4 linked regions of the Homo sapiens genome follow. The protein of the gene in region 1 interacts with the protein of each later gene in a pairwise test. Each region holds a gene or a part of one and is shown in the gene's direction. Other genes may lie near its edges.

What was found.
Region 2: the proteins of ZRANB1 (region 1) and CDC45 interact in binary tests that used the Homo sapiens proteins (3 or more experiments, as listed by UniProt).
Region 3: the proteins of ZRANB1 (region 1) and JRK interact in binary tests that used the Homo sapiens proteins (3 or more experiments, as listed by UniProt).
Region 4: the proteins of ZRANB1 (region 1) and EHHADH interact in binary tests that used the Homo sapiens proteins (3 or more experiments, as listed by UniProt).

The regions. Positions count from the first base shown.
Region 1 is NC_000010.11:124,980,076-124,987,122, forward strand, and holds part of ZRANB1 (ubiquitin thioesterase ZRANB1), read left to right. Parts: intron 1-1,149; exon of another isoform or gene 1,150-1,253; intron 1,254-1,633; coding exon 1,634-1,754; intron 1,755-3,099; coding exon 3,100-3,229; intron 3,230-3,383; coding exon 3,384-3,613; intron 3,614-4,241; exon of another isoform or gene 4,242-4,698; coding exon 4,699-4,917; 3' UTR 4,918-7,047. UniProt on the Homo sapiens protein: Ubiquitin thioesterase, which specifically hydrolyzes 'Lys-29'-linked and 'Lys-33'-linked diubiquitin. Also cleaves 'Lys-63'-linked chains, but with 40-fold less efficiency compared to 'Lys-29'-linked ones.
Region 2 is NC_000022.11:19,517,888-19,521,123, forward strand, and holds the end of CDC45 (cell division control protein 45 homolog), read left to right. Parts: intron 1-956; coding exon 957-1,021; 3' UTR 1,022-1,022; intron 1,023-2,593; 3' UTR 2,594-2,721; downstream 2,722-3,236. UniProt on the Homo sapiens protein: Required for initiation of chromosomal DNA replication. Core component of CDC45-MCM-GINS (CMG) helicase, the molecular machine that unwinds template DNA during replication, and around which the replisome is built.
Region 3 is NC_000008.11:142,656,924-142,659,978, reverse strand, and holds the end of JRK (jerky protein homolog), read left to right. Parts: 3' UTR 1-1,034; coding exon of another isoform or gene 1,035-1,124; 3' UTR 1,125-2,519; downstream 2,520-3,055. UniProt on the Homo sapiens protein: May bind DNA.
Region 4 is NC_000003.12:185,251,019-185,259,034, reverse strand, and holds the start of EHHADH (peroxisomal bifunctional enzyme), read left to right. Parts: upstream 1-4,985; 5' UTR 4,986-5,012; coding exon 5,013-5,086; exon of another isoform or gene 5,087-5,209; intron 5,210-5,762; exon of another isoform or gene 5,763-5,825; intron 5,826-8,016. UniProt on the Homo sapiens protein: Peroxisomal trifunctional enzyme possessing 2-enoyl-CoA hydratase, 3-hydroxyacyl-CoA dehydrogenase, and delta 3, delta 2-enoyl-CoA isomerase activities. Catalyzes two of the four reactions of the long chain fatty acids peroxisomal beta-oxidation pathway.

The DNA.
Region 1 (7,047 bases):
ATTATGATTGGGATTGCATTGAATCTGTAGATTTAATTGGGGTGATGGTGGTATTGCCAGCTTGACAATATTGAGCCTTCCAATCCATGAACATGGAATTGAGTTTTGAATGTTAAACCAAACTGGTATTCCTGTACCATTTGGTCATATATTGCTGGATTTGGTTTGCTTGTCTGTTCTTATGGAGACTCTGGTAGTATCAGAGTTTAGGTCTTGGGGTGGTGAGGATGAACATTTTAACATGTTTAGTTTTAAAGTATATTTCATTGAACCTCCCTTCTTCAGTGGTCTTTGAAGAGTTTTGAGTGCAATCACCATTGAATTTCTGGCTGGCTTAGCTGTCTTATTTATAAAGTTATTTTAGGCACCAAGAAATTTCTAACTGCATATAACTTTCAGTATTGACAATTTCTCTGATATTTCTCCTTGAACTTTTCAAAACAATGTATTTCATCACTGTTGCCAAAATTTTCAAGACACATTTATCTTAGCGATTATAAAAGAATATACATATTTTAATTTTAAAACATTTGGAATTATGATTAAACATCCTCAGTTACGTGGAGTATGAAAAATGTTTTAAACTGAGTTAAACCTCTGGAACATTATATTTTAATTTCTTTAGGAAATATATTTACTCTCTAAGGAGCCCTTCATTAAATTACTGTAAAGTTACTTGTGACACCACCCATTTAACTTTTTTTTTCCCCCCGCAATATAGCCGGGGTCTCACTATGTTGGCCAGGTTGTTTTGAATTCTGGACCTCAGGCAATCCTCCTCCTTCAGCTTCCCAAAGTGCTAGAATTACAGGTGTGAGTTACCACACGTGTTCACGTTTAACTTTAATATGCTGAAACTTTTTAACAACAGGAACAGATTGGTCTTTTGTTTCTTTTACCTAGAATTCAGATGTATAGAAGATAAATGTGATGTTATAAACAGATTAAATGTCTGTCTGCATTTTAGAGGTCTTAGTTGGCTTGTTTTTATAAGACAGTGAACCATAATTTTGAGCATAATTATTTCTGAATTTTTATATTTGATAGACAAAGAATCGATGTGTTTTCAGTAATTCAGTGTTAAGCATAAAGAAGGAATGTTTTCTGTCATTGCAGTGGGTTTCTTTTTGGTTGCTTTTGAATTATTAGGTGATCATCAGAGAAATTATTTATGGAAAGAAATCTCAGGGAGATGATCTTGATACTATGAACACACGGAATATTTCCCACCTGTTGTTTATACAAGTGATCAAGTAGGTGGTGTACTATACATTGATAGAGAAATGTAGTGTCTTTGTATACAACATTTCAGATGACTTTTTTTTTTTTTTTTTGTAAACTAATTGTGGACAGTGGAAAATAACCAGTCTCATCATTAGCGTTTGAAGTTTGAAAATTTGGTTGTCGGTAAATCAAATTCTGACTAAAGATGTTAAAGGATGTTACAAGGTATCTGCTAGTGGAAGAGGGAGGCATTTTTCATTAGAAAAATACATTACCAACCAGACAAAATAAAATTATTAATTGTTTCACAGACTGCTTAAAGACTGCATTAAATAAAAATGATCAGAACTTTAAATGTTTTATTTATAGAAGACTATTTATTTATTTTTTTACTATCCTGCTTTTTTAGGTTTTACACACGCTGGAAAGATTGGGAATCATGGTATTCTCAGAGCTTTGGTTTACATTTTTCCTTGAGAGAAGAACAGTGGCAAGAAGACTGGGCATTTATACTCTCTCTTGCTAGTCAGGTGAGGATGCTTCAAGTCTTGTTGCTTCTATGAGAAAAGTAAGCATGTAGTCTAAACTGGTTTATTTGAGCAAACCATGTTGGGGGCAATGTGGTCAAAGAAAAGAATGCTTGACGTGGTATCATCAGTCAACTTGGGTTCTAGTGATGACTGCTGTGTATCAAATAAATAGCATCGCAAGTATAGATGAGCATCGCAAGTATAGATTAGCATCGCAAGTCCTCACTGCAGAGCAGGAAGAGTAACGTGTTTTTATATCGAATGATTAAAAACATCAAAAAGTGAAAGCTGTGCTATGACGGTTACATACAGTAGATAGTCTTGGGATTGCTCTCCGTTCCTGCAGCATAGGCTTGATGCCTATGGTACCTATCCAGGTGAGCTCTGTTCTGTCTCTGGGGACACTTAAGATTACTGGTGTAGGTACTTGCATTGCTGTTGCTGATCTGTCAGGCCCTGAGGAACCAGTTGTCAATCTTCATAATGCTCCCTGTGGTGAGGCAATACCTGTGTCATGTAGGCAAAGGAAAAGGGTAGTTTAGCTTACTCTGAACTAATTACCATCAATAGGAATGATTTCTGATTAATGTGGGAATGAAGTTTTGCAAGTTTGCTAACGTCTTTTTATTAATGAAGGCTGCTTGTGACACAGAACTGTGTAGGGTTGTCCCTTAGACTCTTGGTTTCATGCTTTATTTTGTGAAGCACTTCAGTATACCAAACTGTAAAGTACAAATATATATACAACTACTCCTTTTTTTTTGCAGAAAGCACCATGGTTCATTTGAACTTAGAGAAGGAGGTACCCGATCTTTGGGCAATTTGGGCAGGATTCATAGTGGTTGATTTACATGAGACATGTATCTCACACCATGCATTGTAGCTCGATGATGGACCCATTTAATATTAGTATTCACGAGTTAGTTGATACTGCCATTTACATTTGCATGAAACAGGCTCACTTATTTATTTCAGGAGGACTTTGTTGTAGGTAGTGCTTTCACAGTAACTTAACGAGAATGTGATAATAAAGCATCCTTAGTTATCTGAATCTCTGGTTCCTGAGGTTGGAGAGTTAGTAGTGAGGGATATTTCAAAGTATGTATGCACATCTGTATAATTTGTGAGTTTGGATGGTAAATGATATTTGCATGTAGCCTTTATAGATTTCTTTTACAGTTTTACTGGATTTATTATTTGAGGAATCAAATGCTGCTTTGACAATCTTTTCTTTCTTAAAAACCAACTGCGATAGTATACTGAAGGGGAGGTAGTATTGTTTTTTACACATCAGTTTTCCAGGAGTGGTAATAAATGTTTTAAGTTTTTGTTTTGTTTCGTACAGCCTGGAGCAAGCTTGGAGCAGACGCACATTTTTGTACTGGCACATATTCTTAGACGACCAATTATAGTTTATGGAGTAAAATATTACAAGAGTTTCCGGGGAGAAACTTTAGGATATACTCGGTTTCAAGGTAAGCCATTATTCAGGAACGTTTTACAAGTTTCTTTGAACGGAATGGCTCAGATGTCAGGAAGGAGCAGTGGACAGGGGAATGTGAACAAGGGCAGTGAGGGAGTGGCTCTTTCTTCCTGTGACTGTTGGGATTTTCTTCCCTCTCTTTCCAGGTGTTTATCTGCCTTTGTTGTGGGAACAGAGTTTTTGTTGGAAAAGTCCGATTGCTCTGGGTTATACGAGGGGCCACTTCTCTGCTTTGGTTGCCATGGAAAATGATGGCTATGGCAACCGAGGTGCTGGTGCTAATCTCAATACCGATGATGATGTCACCATCACATTTTTGCCTCTGGTTGACAGTGAAAGGAAGCTACTCCATGTGCACTTCCTTTCTGCTCAGGAGGTAAGCAGTTTCTCCTATGAACTATTTCTAGTAGTGACCTTGTACCAGAAACAGCCTGAAGTGCCTTTCAGGTGTGGTTTTATCTGCACTATCACTTAATTTCTGAATGTGATGGTAGTAATTGCTGAAGGTACTAGCTATACTTTGAAATTTACCTTTTCAAAACTGCTGTATGGGGACACATCAAGGAACTTAAGGTGGTGATGGGTTTTAAGAAGAAAAAGTAAAGATGAGGTTTGTGATTTAAATATGGCATTTTAGGGAATGAGAAGTGAGTTTTTATCTGAAAGCAGAGTTCCAAGAATTGCAAGGCCAGTGTGGTTTAAGAGGGGAAGCAACAGGGAAAGAGAGAGGGTAGGCGGCAGGGGGAGGGAGGAAGGGAGAAGAGGTCAGAGAGGATAGGGATGGGGGGGAGTTCATTGAAGGCTTTTTAAAGCTTTGGGTTTTACTCTGGATAACGTGGTAAACCAATGGCCAGTTTACCCAGAAGAGGAACATTTGGGGTCTGGTGCATGGCAGGAGCAGGAACACCAGGTATTGTAGATGAAGGGGAGTGAAAGGGTGCTGTAGACCAGACAGGGGAGGTGGTGAGAAGGTACAAAAACAACGCTCTTTCAGAAAGCCAGTATTCTTATAAAAGTATTGGTCTTTTATTTAATATACTAGTAATTATAAAACGTTTATAATCACAACATGAAGAAAAAAAGTTCATAGACCGTAACTTGTATAATTTCAGCTTGTACATAATTGACTAAGTAAACTTACCTTGTCATGTGTTTGAAGCTGTGGCTTGCCAGGATCAGTTTATTAGGACATTTGTTTTTTATTTTATCTAACAAATTACCCTCTAGTGTGCTCCTCTTTAGTTTTTTTCTGAGAAATTTCCCATTTATGTCTTTTTAAATTTAACCAGAGCAAACTGGACTTTAATCACAAAACTTCCAAGAGGTCAAAACCATGTGAAAAGTTGATTGCTTTGGCCTTTTCATGAGTTAGCATACCAGCTGTAGGTTTCCATGTCACATTCCTACCAAGTCTCTGATCTGTTGTATGATTTTCCCTTTGTCTTCATATTCCTCCAAAAGCTAGGTAATGAGGAACAGCAAGAAAAACTGCTCAGGGAGTGGCTGGACTGCTGTGTGACGGAGGGGGGAGTTCTGGTTGCCATGCAGAAGAGTTCTCGGCGGCGAAATCACCCCCTGGTCACTCAGATGGTAGAAAAATGGCTTGACCGCTACCGACAGATCCGGCCGTGTACATCCCTGTCTGATGGAGAGGAAGATGAGGATGATGAAGATGAATGAAAAAAAAAATCAAACAGCAGAAGACCAAGGCATCAGATCTGTAATGACCCTAAAGTTAGTGTGGTGCTCCAAGCAGAGTCGACATCATGGAATGAACCAAATCTGGCAGGATCTGCTCGGGGAAGTGTTTTCCTGGACCACACACACCTTATGGAGATAATGCCTCTGCTGCGTGAGGAGACAGAGAACTTTAGTTGGACTACAGTTTGTAAAAAAAACTAATTTTATTAAGACAGAACTTTTTTTCCTTCCAAATTGTAAATCTGTCTATAAATGTAACGCATGTGGTTGTGTAAGACATTGTTTAATAGGAAAAGTTGTACCAGCATCTTCATATTATTGAGAAAATTTTTTCCAGCATGGGCACTTAGAAAAAGCACATGGCAAATGGCTCTTTGTTCCTTTCAGATATTATTTCAGTAGAACCTGGCATTCTACTTTCACCTTAAAAGATCCATCTAAGTCTCAGATCTGGAAACGTTTTGTACCGATTATCCACAGCAAAACAAAAATAAGCTTTTATTTTATTAATAATTTCGTTCCTCTTGTGCCCAATCAAATCTTTTAGGAACAAACTGCAAGAAAAGCTAAGAATGTTTTAGAGTGAACTAAATACAGACATTGCTTACTTGTTTTGAAGAGGGTTTTGGTTTTGGTTATTGTGTCTTTAAGTTTTCTGATATGCCCCCTTTCAATATTTAGATATTTATTTGTTGGGAAGAATACCTTAAAATGAGGGTTCTTATTCCAGATTCTGGGCAGTGGTCTGTGAGTAGTTTTTTTCCTGGATGAAAAGGGAGCAAGCCCACTTGTCACTAAATGAATTGTGTGAAATGTGCTCACTTGGACTCCATCAACAATGTGCTGCTCCCAGATTGCCATGCCAGAGGGTCTTCGGATTCTTCCTTCTATCACCTCTGCTCTAAGCAAATCTTGTTAGAAGGGCATGCCTTTGCTTAGGCAGATTGGGAATACCAATTCACTACAGAATAAAGATTTTAAAAATGCAATAAGGTGGCAAATGCATTGTATGAAGAATTTCTCAGTGTTTAGTCTGAGAATTTTTGCATGTTGGTTAATTGTGGCCATTCTTTAATTTAAAGTTAAAACTATAATCTTAGGTAGAAAAACTTTTTTATAAGAAGTATTATTTGACCACTTCAGGTATACATTCAATACTGGGTAAAAATTTCAGACCTATCTCAGGAACACAGAAATATTTGGTGTCCTGATAAGCACTTTCTAGACTATTGATGTGGCCAGGAATTTGGAAAGACGACACACGCACGCGCGCGCGCGCACACACACACACACACACACACACACACACAGTTTTTTCCTTCCCTGTGATGAAAAAGGCTGTGAAAACCTTAAAGTATTTGCTTGCTTCTTGTTTTGTTTAGTTGATAATGAAATGTGTACAACCTCAAATTTGCTGCCAGAATACTAAAAATAGAAAAATACCCACAAAACTGTCATGTCTTTAGTTCTTTCCCCCCGAAAACTCAGTAAAAAGGTGTTCCCAGGATGAAAAGATCATTTTTTGCTGCATGCTAAATCTTGCAGGAAAAATGATTTTTTAGTACGATTCTGTAGAAATGAATCTTTGATATAATGTAAATGCTGCTGTTTGTTTCAAGTGGTGAATGTGTTGTTAAAAATTGGCTGTTTGCTTTCATTTTGGCCAATAAGTAATCAAGTTTGTAGAAAATGTTAGCATTCTGACTACTTAGCATCTGTAGTAATTTCTCTATGTATAGGGATAATTTTTTAGTGGGCAGAGATCCTGTTCTAGTTGCCTGTTAAGCAAAATCTGCCCTCCCAATTGAAAAAGCCAAAGAGAATTGTTAGAGGGAAAAGCATGTAGCCATTGCAGTCTGCATTGCAGCCAGCGTTGTCCAGAGTACACGCTCAGCACTTAGCTTCTACTGTGTGTTGTGGTCTGGTGAGTGTTGTTTCCCCTGAGCGCTCTATTATTTATTTATTTATTATCAATCAGTGACCCTGACCACATAGTGTGATAGGTGCAGCATTCTTCCCTGTGGGAAAGAATTAAAGATGGTTCCATTTCCTAGGCTACAGACAGGAATGGGGCTCTAAATGGTTTTCATAGACTGGCTGTTAAAGGCC
Region 2 (3,236 bases), on another chromosome or scaffold:
AACACCCTCAGTACTTCCTGCACCTCTGAGAAAGGATATTTTCTTGCCTCATCACCACGGATTCCTCAACAATGATAGACACTGTCATGGGAGATCCAGCCTTTGTTGAAGTGGCGTCAGCCATCTCAGAGCTGCCTTCCTTGAGCCAGACCCAGCCATGGCTGTGGCACTGTGTGGCATTGGTTCACCCCGCACAGCAGCCCCTGCTAACTCTTTTGTGCCTGTGATGTGGGAGAGGTGGATGGACACCCACTGGCCTGCAGAATATCTGGCCTTCAGTATACAGGGAGGACTCGGGCTGGGAACTGCTTGGTTTCCCTGAGGGTGGAGAGCCAGGGGTGAGGGTGCAGAGTGGGCCATGTCTAGTGCCCACCTGCGTGGGCTGGGTCTGGGGCTCTCGGGGCTGTGGCTGGCAGCATAGATGGCTCCCAGGGCCAGGCCAGCCCCATCCTGGGGCCTGGTTTTGCTTTGTGGTGAGGGTCTGGGTGCTCAGCTGAGCCTGAGGGCCCTGTGAGATATGGGCAGTTTGCACCATGTCCCCTTGTGCGGAAGAGAACACTGAAGCCGAGGAATTGGCCAGAGTGCGGCCAAAAGTGACCTGCCCCACCCAAGGACTTCCACAACCCACTCTGGGGACGGGGGTTCATGCCAGCTGGGGTGGGCAGGCCCGTGTTTGTCCAGGTCTGTAGGGCCCTTCCCTGTGTCACCTCTATTGTCTTCCCGGGGGGGAGTTCTCCCTGCAGGCCCCAACCCTGACCTCTCTAGCAGTGCAGACAGCAGTTGTGAAGATGAAGTACAGTGAGACAGACACAACCACTGAGTGCAGAATACCACAGGCCGGGAGGAGCCGCGCACTTTGGAATGCAGTGGAGGGCAGGCAGCGGAGGGGAGTTCTGTGCCCTGTCTTGTGTTCCCACTCCTCCCTTCTCACGGCTGTTTTTCTTTCATTACTTCAGTAATTGAGCTGAAAGCTGAGGATCGGAGCAAGTTTCTGGACGCACTTATTTCCCTCCTGTCCTAGGGTGAGTTACAGGGGTTCTGCAGGGGTGGCTGCAGCAGCCCCCTCAGAGCCCGACCCTGATGCCCTGCTCTGTCCTCCCTCAACGGAGGCTTCTACTTGGGTTTCAGACCGAAGCAGGGTTCTTGAGATTGGAGCCAACACATTTTTCCCAAGCACATCTGTCCTTAGGCTGCCAGCAGGGCCACAATGGGGCATTTTGAGGCAGCTAATTTCATTAAGCCCCTGCGATCCCTTCAGAAAGAGCTGGTATTCACCCTCTGCTGACCACACTTGGGCTGGGCATCGCGTGTGACACATGTCACACACAGACTCCCTGGTGCTGCCCTCGAAGGCCACCTGGAGCCTCCTGTCCCACAGCCTTCGTGTCAGGCGCTGGGCAAGAGCCCGCAGAGCAGCCATCCGGGCTTTTGTGTGCTTGGCTCATGAGAAAGCAAAGCTGTTGGCAGCCGCTTAGCTGGGAATTCCAAAGCGCTGGTTCTGCTGGGGCCTTCACCAGCACACAGCTGTCCTGAGGGCCCCATTGGGATTCACTGGCAGGTCACTGTCCCGGGACACCTCCCACTGCCCCATGTGCTACCTCTTTCTTAAGGGTTCCCAGGAAATAGGCCTGCCTTGTGTCTTTGTAACCATCTCTCAGCCCAGGTTCCCCACAGGGAATGCCACATCCAGCCCTGCATCTCCCAGAGCCCTAGCCTGGAGGCTGCGGCTGTGGCAGATGGGCCCTGCCAAGACTCTGTTGCAGGAGGTCCCTCAGGCCAGGCCTGGGGTCCTCCCCACTCTCCCATCCGTCCGTCCATCCATCCATCTGTCCATCCCTCCAGGGGCAAGCACCTGTTCTCCTGTTGGGGCTGGAGTGGGGGTTTCTGCTGACAACAGCATAGGGGGCCTCAGGGACCCCACAGTTCCTCTCAGGGTGGCCTGGGCTACATGGGGCCCATTTTGGGCGCGGGGCTCTGAGTCAGACCCTCGGGGTTTTTGGCAAGTTCTGTAGGGTCATCAGCAGTGACCTTGGGCCAGCCACCTAATCAGGCTTAGCCTGTTTCCTCATCCAAAAATGGGGCCCACTCTCTCCTTAGACGATGAGTGTGAGCATCACAGGACTGCATAGGGTGGGGCGGAGGCAGAGGTGGGGCTCTCTGGCAGTGGAGTGGGTGCTAGAGGCAAACCCCTCCCCTGCAGCCTGCTTGGTGGTGATGTTATGCTGCTGTGTGTCCTTCCACTGAGGCAGGGGCACAGGTGGCCTGGGCTAGGAGGGCTGAGCAGCAGAGTGCCGAGGGATGGAGGGAGAGCCCCCATGGGAGGGTGCCAGGGGGCTGGCTGAGCAGCTGGGCGGGGTCCGTGAGGTAAGAAGGTGCCCGGGCCAGGGGGCAGGAGCTCTGATGTAGGACAGCTCAGCCCAGTCAAGGGGTGCTATGAGGACAGCAGGGGCCTCCGAGTCTGGGGTGGCCTCACCCCCACAAGCAGTCCTGGCTACTCAGCAGCACTACCCAGAGGGGACGCCTGGGCAGTTTCTTCAATTCGGTGGCACATCAACATCGTTTGAAACTTGTTTTTTCTTGTTTTGTTTTCTAGAATTTGATTCTTCCAGAATGACCTTCTTATTTATGTAACTGGCTTTCATTTAGATTGTAAGTTATGGACATGATTTGAGATGTAGAAGCCATTTTTTATTAAATAAAATGCTTATTTTAGGCTCCGTCCCCATTGTGGCTCTGGTCTCGAGGCCAGTGCTTGAGTGTGCTCTGAGCCTTCTGTGGGTCTTGGGCCCCAGGAGCCCTCAGTGCCTGGCAGGAAATCAGCATGGGGATTGGCCCCAAGGACAAGATCTCCTTACTCTGTCCTCCAGGCCCTCCGGGTGGCAGTGGACAGAGGTCAGGACCCCTCGGCATCCCCGCCTCCTCATAGCACCTGCACCGGCCACTGCCTGGTGGTGCCAGCCAGCACCTGGCTCTGTCCACCTACCACTTCCTCTGGTCCACCTGGCCTCAGCCACATAGCAAGTCCACCCTCTCAGCCATCCCTCCACCTGTGGGTCTCACCATCCAGCACTCTTTTCCAGGTCTTTGAAGGCAGGAGTGATTTGGGTAGGTTTTAAGTCAGTGGGGAAAAGCTCAGAAAGAGTGGCCTGGAAAAGAGCACACAGGTAGGTGGGGCTGGTCTTGGTGCAGCCCTTGGCAAAGGGCAGTGGGCACAAAAGGGTGAGAGCTGGACTGGA
Region 3 (3,055 bases), on another chromosome or scaffold:
TCTGGCCTCTGCTTCTACACATGGACCCTCAGACCTTGCACATCTGTTGTTTCCCTTGCAGGGCAGTGATGATGACATGAAATGAGGTGGGGTCACTCCTGTTTAGGGATGAGACTGGGGCCCAGGGAGGGGCAGGTGTGAAGTTGCTGAGGGCAGAGGGAGACCCAGGGCTACCTGCTCCTAATGACCAGCCTCACGTTCTCCACTGCTCACTCCCTGCTGTTCACCAGCTGCATGACCTTGAGCAGTGCACTCAACTGTAAACAGAGGTGAAAACACTCCTTTACCAACTGTTTTAGGGGCCACTCTTGTTTGAGGCCTTGAACCTCCTTTCAGTTCCGTGGTGGTCCTGAGCCTCTGAATCTGGGTATGGCCCCTGCTGGGTCCTGGTCTCTTAGGCAGCACGATGGCCTCCCTGCTCAAGGCCCTGCACCCAGGGGCAGATTGTGGGAGGCCCACTGGCCATGGCTGGGCCCTATCGCAGAGAGCCTGTCAGCACGGCCATTTCCACACCCAGGCTGGCTGGGAAGCAAGCTACGAGGTGCTCAAAGGCCCTCTATGTCTGCAGGTAGCCCCGTCCCACACAGGCGAGGATCGTTGGGCCTCCTTAGTAGCCAAAGGAACTGAGGTCCAGAGCAGGGAATGTGTTGCCCAGTGTCAGCATGGTCTGCTCTGGGGTCAGGCGTCTTGCCCTGGTCCTAAGCCACCCCAAGCCAAGGCATGTCCCTGGGCCCATTTCCTCTCTCGAGGTCTTGGGTTCCCTATTTCTGATGTGTGTGAAAGGAAGGCCTGTCCTCTGGGGTGACCATGAGGCTCAGTGGGAGGAGCTGCCAGGCTTGAGCTGGGACTTGGCACCTGGCCAGCCTTTTTTCTATTTCATTGTACCTTGATGGGCTGTCAGTTCTGAAGAGAAAAAATACACTAGGAATCCATTCTTCCTCCACCATTCTCCCTGGCAGAGGGAAGTGACTACACCCCTATGGTGTGGACATACTGACGCTCCTCCATGAAGCAGCAAAGTTCTGTTGTTTCAGGAGACTGTGGGCCTTGAGGATGTGGTAGTGACCTCACCAGAGGAGTTGGCAATTCCTAAGTGCTGCCTGGAGGCCTCTACAGAGACATAATGTTGGAGAACTTCTGCCACATGGCAGTGCTGGGTAAGACCCCTCTGTCCCCACCAGTGCCCTTGAGGTTATGGGTGTTGGTAGGTCTGTGGCCTCCATCTCCATGACGATGGTGTTAAGGACTGCATGTTTGTGTCCCCCCCCAAAGTTTATATGTTGAAACCCTGACCCCCAGGAGGGTGGTATTAGGAGGTGGGGCCTTTGGGAGGTGACTAGGCTTAGGTGAGATCGTGAGGGTGGGGCTCGCCGATGAGATCGAGTCCTTATAAGAAAAGGAAGGAACTAGAGCGAGGTCACTTTGTGCTGTGTGAGCATACAAGAAAACTGCCATCTTCAAGCTGGGTGCAGTGGCTCACGCCTGTAATCCCAGCACTGGAAGGCCAAGGCATTAGGATTGCATGAGTCCAGGAGTTCGAGACCAGCCTAGGCATGATAAGACCTTATTGCTAAAAAAAAAAAAAAAGGAAATAAAATAGAAAATTGCCATCTGCAAATGAGAAAGCCTTCAGCCGACACCAGACTGCCAGTGCCTTTGATATTGGACTTTCAGTCCCCAGATCTGTGAAAAATTAATTTATGTTGTTTAAGACACCTAGCCTGTGGTATTTTGTTATCGCAATCAAAACTGACTGAGACAGGCAGTAAGGAGAGAACAGAGGTTCCAGCCTGCTTCAGGTCCAGGCAGTTCTGCCATTGCCCCTAACTCCTCAGTGCCAGTCATGGGCCAGGCCCCTGGGGGACTTGGAATGAGTAAAACATGCACCTATTGTTAAGGTTCACCTGGTCCAGAAGGGGAGGCAGACCCACCTGCCCACCATGACCCGGACAGAGGCAATAAATACGGAGCACCTCATGGCCAGGGCCTGGAGGATTCCCACCATACCCTACCCAGCGCCAATAACAGAGGGACCCTGGAGTTGTGTACGCAAGATAGCAGTTCAGTGCTTGCACACATACTAGTTGAGAAGGGAAATCAGGGCTAATGAAACAGCTCAACTGTCTGGCAGAGCCAGGCTCCTTCTGCCATGATACAGTTTGGATGTTTGTCCCTTTCTAATCTTATATGGAAATTTGATCCCCAGTGTTGAAGGTGGGGCCTGGTGGGAAATGTTCCTGTTATCGGGATGGATCCTTCATGAATAGCCTGGTGCCATCTTTGTGGTAACAAGTGAGTTCTCACTTGATTAGTTTCTGTGAGAACTGTTTGTTAAAAAGAGCCTGGTGGCACCTCCCTCCCTTCTTCCTCCTGCTCTTGCTATGTGATGCTGCTGCCCTTTGCCTTCCGTCATGAGTGGAAGCTCCCTGAAGCCCCCACCAGAAGCAAATGCTGGCACCATGCTGCTTGTACAGCCTGCAGAACTGTGAGCCAAATAAACCTCTTTTCTTTATAAATTACTCAGCCTCAGGTGTTACTTTATAACCATGCAAACAGACCAAGACATGCCATGTGTATTTCATGAAGGGAGCCACAGGGTTGAAGATGTTACAGGACACCTGCTCTAATCCCCACCACTGTGTCTGCCTCCCCACCACTGTGTCTGCCTCCAGAAAGCACACCACTTCTGCTCCTGTCCCTCGAGCCAGGTCCCAGTCATATGAGTACAACTAGTTACAAGGGGTCTGGGTAGCATGATTGTAGAGGATGGGTGAGTGAGTATAGGACTCATCTAGCAGTGCAAGTCAGCCCAGGCCTTGTGCCTTCATGCCCTCTCCAGCAATTATGTCTGAGCTCCTCCAGTTTCTGTAAGGAGAGAGCAGAGTTTCCAGCCTGCTTCAGGTCCGTGAAGTTCTGTGTGCTGCGCGGATGTGGCAGTGACTTCACTAGAGGAGTTGGCAATTCCTAAGCCCTCCCCAGAGGCTTCCACAGAGACATAATGTTGGAGAACTTCTGCCTCATGGCAGTGCTGGGCACAAGATAGATTTATGAGGTG
Region 4 (8,016 bases), on another chromosome or scaffold:
ACAATGAGAACACTTGGACACAGGGCGGGGAACATCACACCCCAGGGCCTGTCAGGTGGTAGGGGGCTGGGGGAGGGATAGCGTTAGGAGAAATACCTAATGTAAATGATGAGTTGATGGGTGCAGCAAACCAACATGGCACATGTATACCTATGTATCAAACCTGCACGTTGTGCACATGTACCCTAGAACTTAAAGTATAATAATAATAAAAAAGACACATGCACACGTATGTTTATTGCAGCACTATTCACAATAGCAAAGACTTGGAACCAACCCACATGTCCATCAATGATAGACTGGATTAAGAAAATGTGGCACATATACACCATGGAATACTATGCAGCCATAAGAAAGGATGAGTTCATGTCCTTTGCAGGGACATGGATGAAGCTGGAAACCATCATTCTGAGCAAACTATCACAAGTTCTCACTCATAGGTGGGAGTTGATCAACGAGAACACATGGGCACAGGGAGGGGAACGTCACACAACAGGGCCTGTCGGTGGGTGGTGGCCTGGGGGAGGGATAGCATTAGGAGAAATACCTAATGTAAATGACGCGTTGATGGATGCAGCAAACCAACATGGCACATGTATACCTATGTAACAAACCTGCACGTTGTGCACATGTACCCTAGAACTTAAAGTATAATTAAAAAAAAAAAAGAAAAGGTTATTTATGAAACAATGTAGTAAGGAACCAGTAAGTAGGGGAGAGAAATGTGAAAAAAAAAAGTTTAGATAATAAAATATTCCTTAAAACCTGATAGAAAATTGGAGAAATTTGACTAATTAACATTTCATAGTTAGAGCTCTTAGTCTTGCCTAAAGTAAAATAAGAAATATAAGTATATTTTTTAATATACTTAAGCATGAAGCTGGTTAAGTATGGAGCTAAATTTCACATACATGCATGCATTGCTTCACACCGTTTACTGTTTTGCATGGATAGTGCTGGCACTGGAGTACTTATTGGTCATGTGCCTAGAGTGAATTTCTTGATTGTACAGGATGTATGATGATATTGGTGGACTTAAGGATATTGAATGGTGTATCAGGAATAAAATATTCATTATATGGGTGTTTGGGGGCCCTGAGTAACACTGTAGCCTCCAGGGTAGATTGAGTAGGAAAAATTTAGGGTGGGGTTCCTGTTTGTTTTTGCTTCTAATTTTCATTTGTTTGCTGTTTATTCTCCTCCAGGCTTTGCTTGTGGTCGCATAAATAGAAAACCATTTTTTTGTTTGTTGTTTTAGTTTCTAGTGGAAGGCTTTTATTTGGTTCTGTGAATAGTTATTTTATTTTCTATGCATTTCTACCAAGTCATCATTTGTTCCATTTATCTGGAATTCCTAGGCTACCTTTGTTGAGCTCACAGGAATTGGTGGAGCACACTAAGCTTTTTAACCTTAAACTAACTTTTTGGATATTAGGCTTCCTGATACTTTAAGTATATTGAGTATACTTTTGTAAATAGAACTTGAGTCATATTTCTCTCTCTCTGCCTAATTTCTTCAAAATTTGTAAATTGTTTGTGAATATTCTTAATTCATAGCAATGTGTTTGTTTGCATACAGTTGAGCAGGGTCACTAGGGCTGCTCATGGAGAGAGAACTCAAGAAAGCTGACATGCCGGCAAAAGGGTAAGAATTTCTTACCAGTTGGACTTCTGGCCCCTCTTTGTGCAAACTGGTTGAATGAATGGTAAAATATAATGAGAAGGCATGAGAATGTTAATTTTTATAAACATTTAACAAGCTTCCCAAAATCAAATTGCAGCTTCAAAATTGTCTTTTCTGACCTCAAACTTTGAGATGCTACAGCAGGCCCGTGAACCATCCAAAAGAGAGGTAAACAGGATTATTTGATATGTTTAGTTACATGGGAAGCATTGTGAAAATAAAAAATAATGTTTAATCATCTTCAGGTTATATATTAGTGAATGATATTAATATATGTTCCAGAATTGTATGGAATTTCTAAAATTCTAATATGTCTGAGTATATGCTATCAATCATAATTATTGTGTTATTGTAGACCACAGAAATAACCAAATCTCCTTGTCAATAGTGTTTTTAACTATCACTATTTAAAGTCATTTGAACTCCATGGTCTAAGTCAAATCAGCTATGAAAACCCATTAGTTATCAGTGCTATGCACCTAAATTGGAGAAACAACTGGTATTCAAGAGGACATAAGTCCAGTGTTAAGCATGGACTCATGGAAAACCAAGATGGCCACCTTGTTCTTCCTGAGTCCTTAAAGCTTTTGTTATTAAAGTTTCTGCATTCCGTGACTCATCATGGAAAAGATAAAATGATCCAGATTAAATATATACTGGTTTGCTGACTTATAAATTGCTAAAATAGTTTATAACCAATGTTTGGTTTACAATCAAAGCTTCAGGTACATTTGGCTACCTGATGGGCCATTTAAACATTTAAATTGTCATTTTATTTATTTATTTTTTTTTTTTTGAGATGGAGACTCGCCTGTTGCCAGGCTGGAGTGCAGTGGTGCAAGCTCAGCTCACTGCAACCTCCACCTCCCAGGTTCAAGTGATTCTCCTGCCTCAGCCTCCTGAGTAGCTGGGATTACAGGCATGTGCCACCACGCCGGGCTAATTTTTGTATTTTTATTAGAGACAGGGTTTCACCATGTTGATCAGGCTGGTCTCAAACTCCTGACCTTGTGATCTGCCCACAATGGCCTCCCAAAGTGCGGGGATTACAGGTGTGAGCCACTGCACCCAACCATCATCCTTCATTTACATAGGGCATACACCAGGTAACCAATGCAAACCTCTAGAGGGTATTGAAATCCCAGAAAATTCTGTAACTGGTCCCTTGAGCCACTTGCTCAGGCCTGCTCCCACCCTGTGGAGTGTGCTTTCATTTTCAATAAATCTCTGCTTTTGCTACTTCATTCTTTCCTTGCTTTGTTTTGCATTTTCAATTCTTTGGTCAAAACGCCAAGAACCTGGACACCGTCCACCCATAACAGTTTCGCTAGTTGCATGTGATTGTAAGACAAATAAAAATGATGTTGTGGGCTGGGTGCGGTGGCTCACGCCTGTAATCCCAGCACTTTGGGAGGCCGAGGCGGGTGGATCACAGGGTCAGGAGATCAAGACCATCCTGGCTAACACGGTGAAACGCCATCTCTACCAAAAATACAAAGAATTAGCCAGGCGTGGTGGCGGGCGCTTGTAGTCCCAGCTACTCGGGAGGCTGAGGCAGGAGAATGGTGTGAACCCGGGAGGCGGACTTGCAGTGAGCTGAGATCGCGCCACTGCATTCCAGCCTGGTCGACAGAGCCAGACTCCGTCTCAAAAAATAAAAATTAAAAAAAAAAAAAGATGTTGAGGCAGGAGTATAGGGCCTGAAGGCAGGGAACCTAAAGACTTTCTAGAACTAAATCAAATGGAAACACTTCAGCTATGACAGGAAATATTCTCTTCATTTACATAGGGTGTACACTGAGTAAATGACTTCGTAACTTCACTTCGTCCTCTTCATTTACATAGGGCGTACACCCAGTAACCAATGGGAAACCTCTAGAGGGTATTGAAACCCCAGAAAATTCTGTAACAAGGTCCCTTGGGCCTCTTTCTTGGGCCCACTCCCACCGTGTGGAGTGTCTTTTCGTTTTCAATAAATATTCGCTTCTGTTGCTTTGTTTTTCCCTTGCTTTGTGTGTTTCGTCCAATTCTTTGTTCAAAACGCCAAGAACCTGGACAACTTGCAGTCCAGACCCTCCTCTAGTAACAATGTTATATAAGTATTTGGTTGATGTTAGAGTAATCACTGGATGGGTTCTTCCTGCCTGCTGCACAAACAAAATCAATTCAGGAAGACCACAGCATTGCAGTAAGGAAAGAGTTTAATTGATGTGAGGCTGGCCACGCCACATGGGACATGGAGTTATTACTCAAATCAATCTCATCGAAGGCTAGTAGGTTAGGGGTTTTTCAAAGGTGGTTTGGTGGGCAGGGGCTAGGGTATGGAAAATGCTGACTGGTTGGGTTGGAGATGAAATCATAGGGGTTGAAGCTATCCTCTTGTACTGAGTTGCTTGTGGGTGGGGCCACAGGAGCTGTTGACTGGTCCAGGTGGAGCCATCAGTGTCAGGCAAACGTGAAAAAATATCTCAAAAGGCCAAACTTAGGTTCTACAATAGTAATGTTACCTGCAGGAGTAAATGGGGAAGTTGTCTATCTGGTGGCTTCCGGAATAATGGCTGGCAATGGTCTATGTTTACACCTTAGCAGAGAGAATTCACACTCCTCTGTCCTCCTAGCCTGGTGGTCTCTCGGTTAGCTTTACAAAGGCAGTTGAGTTTTGGGGAAGGGCTATTATCATTTAAACTATAAACCAAATGTCTCCCAAAGTTAACTTGGCCTAAGCTCAGGAATAATTAAGGGCAGCTAAAGGCAAGATGGGGTTGGTTAAATCAGATCTCTTTGACTGCCATAATTTTCTCACTGTTAGAATTTTTGCAAAGGCTGTTTCATTAGTACCCTACTCATTTAGGTGAAATGAACAATGTGTATTTTATGTGTTCCAGATGTGTATCAATATCACATAACTGTCAGGGAGGGCCCCAGGTATCTGTCCCTGTTCAGAAAGATCATGAAGATGAATACCGCGATGAGGACAGCTTGCCCGTCTCAGCGAACTCAGAACTTGTCCTCAGTAGCCAGCCCCTATGGGCCAAGGGGTTACAAACTTCGACTTGCCGGCAATTACAGCTGTTTTCCATCATTCTCCTTGCTGTACCTTCTGGTGGGAGCAGCATGGGAGTTAATAAAGGGAAAGCGACAAGCGTCTGTAGAGCGCCGGGTGGGGTCTCGGGAGAGGAGGGCTGGGTGGGAAGAGGCGCGGCGGGAGGCGGCGCCCCGGCTCGCATTGGCCCAGCCGGCGTCCCTCCTCTGGAGGAGGCCGGGCGCGCCCGGAAAAGTGGTTTGCCTGACGGCGAGAGGCAGAGGTGCCCTCGGTGATAGAGGAAACATGGCCGAGTATACGCGGCTGCACAACGCCTTGGCGCTAATCCGCCTCCGAAACCCGCCGGTCAACGCGATCAGGTAACGGGCTCGGTCGCCTCCAGCCCGGGGACCGTGCGGGCCTTAGCCGCCCTCTGGCTCCGGAGGCTTTGACTCTCCCCCGTCGGTTTAAACCGAGAAGGACACTCAAGAGTTGAGCAACTGGTACATGCCAGGAACTTTTTTTTTCTTTTCTTTCTTTCTTTTTCTTTTCTTTTTTTTTTTTTTTAACCTAGATTAGCTTGGTTAATCTTCGCAGGGAACTCTCGTCCCCGTTTTACTGATAAGGAAACTGAGGCTGAGGCTGAGACAGATCAACACTTAGGGAGTTGGCCTCGACCTGTCCTTCATGCGGAGCCCTCCTGCTTACTTGCAACTTTGGCTTTGCAGGCCGACTTTTTATTTTTCTTTTTTTTTTTTAATTATACTTTAAGTTTTAGGGTACATGTGCACAACGTGCAGGTTAGTTACATATGTATACATGTGCCATGTTGGTGTGCTGCACCCATTAACTCGTCATTTAATATTAGGTATATCTCCTAATGCTATCCCTCCCCCCTCCCCCCACCCCACAACAGGTCCCAGTGTGCAGGCCGACTTTCTAATCCAAAGGTCTTAACTTAGTTTGATGTTGGACTTTGATCCAGCCTCACTCCCCTTCTTTGAGTCCAGGCTGTCCTTACAATGTTTGGCTAAAGGCTTTAGGAATAGGGCAATCACTGGCATTAGTGGGACTTTTTTTTTTTTTTTTTTTAATGTTAAAAGTCCCACTAATGCCAGCTCAGTGATTAAAGCAGAATTTTGCCCTGGCCCGGAAACGCAAAATTATTTCTCCTGATTTGTTTAAACCTCAGGACTTTGGTGCTTCCAAGGAAGACTCACATCAGACTAAGCCTATGCAATAGCATTTTCTGAAAAATTGCACCTTATCTTCTTTTTCTCACTGGGGAGTATTTGCCTTGTGTGGTGCACTTTAAACATTAAAAAGTGAGATCAATGTTGCCTTTTTGAAAAGTAATGATTATTTGGTTTGGTCCTTCTACATCTCTTAAAAAAATAATTATATGTCAGCCTTGAAAAAGAATTACCTATCCACAGGGAATAAGATTAGTGGAAATTATAATTTATCAAGAATATATAAAGCATAGAGAGAAAGGTCTTTGGTCAAAATTCTTATAACATGCTGCTGAAGCAAAGAGACTGAAATGAGAAGACCTGCTAATTTTAATAGAATTTAAAAATCCTACTGTCATTGGATTTGATTTATCATTAGTATTAATATTAATTCATTATGAATTATTGCATTTAATAATGTCAAAAAATGCAGGACTAAAATCACATAAGGATGACATGTCTACTAACTTGCCATTCCCAGAATAAAAAGCAAAATATCTGTTATATTGGTTTTGACAAAGAAAAATGTAAGTAATATGATTACATGTCAATTTTGGACTGGTCTATATACTGATTAGAATTGCTAGATATTAGGACCTTAGGGGGAAAAGTTCCATACTCTAATACCCATGACTAGGAATATTTTCTGACAACTGTTTTTTTTTTTTCTTTTTTTTTTAAGCTCATTTGCTTGTTTTGAGACGGAGTCTTGCTCTGTCGCCAGGCTGGAGTGCAGTGGCGTGATCTCAGCTCACTGCAACCTCTGCCTCCCGGGTTCAAGTGATTCCCCTGCCTCAGCCTCCCGAGTAGCTGGGACTACAGGTGCGTGCCACCACGCCCAGCTAATTTTTTGTATTTTAGTAGAGACGGGGTTTCACCATGTTGGCCAGGATGGTCTCAATCTCCTGACCTCGTGATCCACCTGCCTCGGCCTCCCAAAGTGCTGGGATTACAGGCATGAGCCACGTGCCCAGCCTCTGACAATTGCTTTTAATATTTCTGGAATTTAACCTGCTCTCCTTGCCCACCCATGCAACCACCTGTGCCACCCCCATCCTCTTTGCAGGAGAAATGTTAGGGCCTACCTCATAAAGTTGTGAAGTTTAAATCAGCTGGAAATTATGAAGTGGCATTTAATAGATGTTAGTTATTCCTATTAGTCAGAAGACCTGTTCAAGCCCCAAAAACAGGCCCTGCTACTCAGGACCCACTTCAGTTTCATCAAGAAGATATTCTCCACTTGGGAATAAGTACTTCTCTGCCCTTTTTTGTCTGTCTTCTGAACTTTTTTAGGTAGAAATGGACATCCTAGGAGTTCCTCAAGTTTAACAGATTCCTCAATTTTTTTCTTACACTTTTTCTTTCCTCCCTTTCTTCCTTTTCCCCTTCCTATTTCTAATTTTATATGGGAAGTCGTCTCCTCCTAGCTGATTGAGAGATTCTTACTTGAGTGTAATACACACACACACACACACACACACACACACATATAAATTTTTTCCCCAAAACAAATAGTTTAAATCCTTCATTGCTAGTTTAGCCAGCCATGTTTGCTTCCATTCAGATAAACACCAGCCCTCTTTATAAGTATAGGACATGCCTGATTAATAGGCCTGTCTCCCAGAACAATGGCTTTCACACGATTGCTTTACTGTAATCCACAGAGTAAGAAAGCTCACGTTTTTACGTAGCAATTCAAGACACACTTACATACAAACACGTAACCGAAAGCAGTTTCCTAAAACAAAACCTATCCTTACTTGGTATATTGTTTGATATAGTCTATTTTCTCATCTCTTCTTTTTCTTTGAAAAAATCCTGGTCACAAGCCACAAACTTGATTTGATGACTTTTGGTTTAAAAAAAAAAACTGTCTAAAAAAAAAAGGAAAGACCTTCTATAGTCAAAGAAGCTGAAGAGTTTTGGTCAGTAGTCATGAAATGCTGTCTCTACTCCAGACTCTATTTCTTCATGCCTGACAGTATTAACAGGAGAAAATAATTTCATAACTTCTGCGGCCTTTACATTGCTATGACTCTCTCTGTCAGCTTGAATCTAGTAAAGTGCGTATCTGTTAT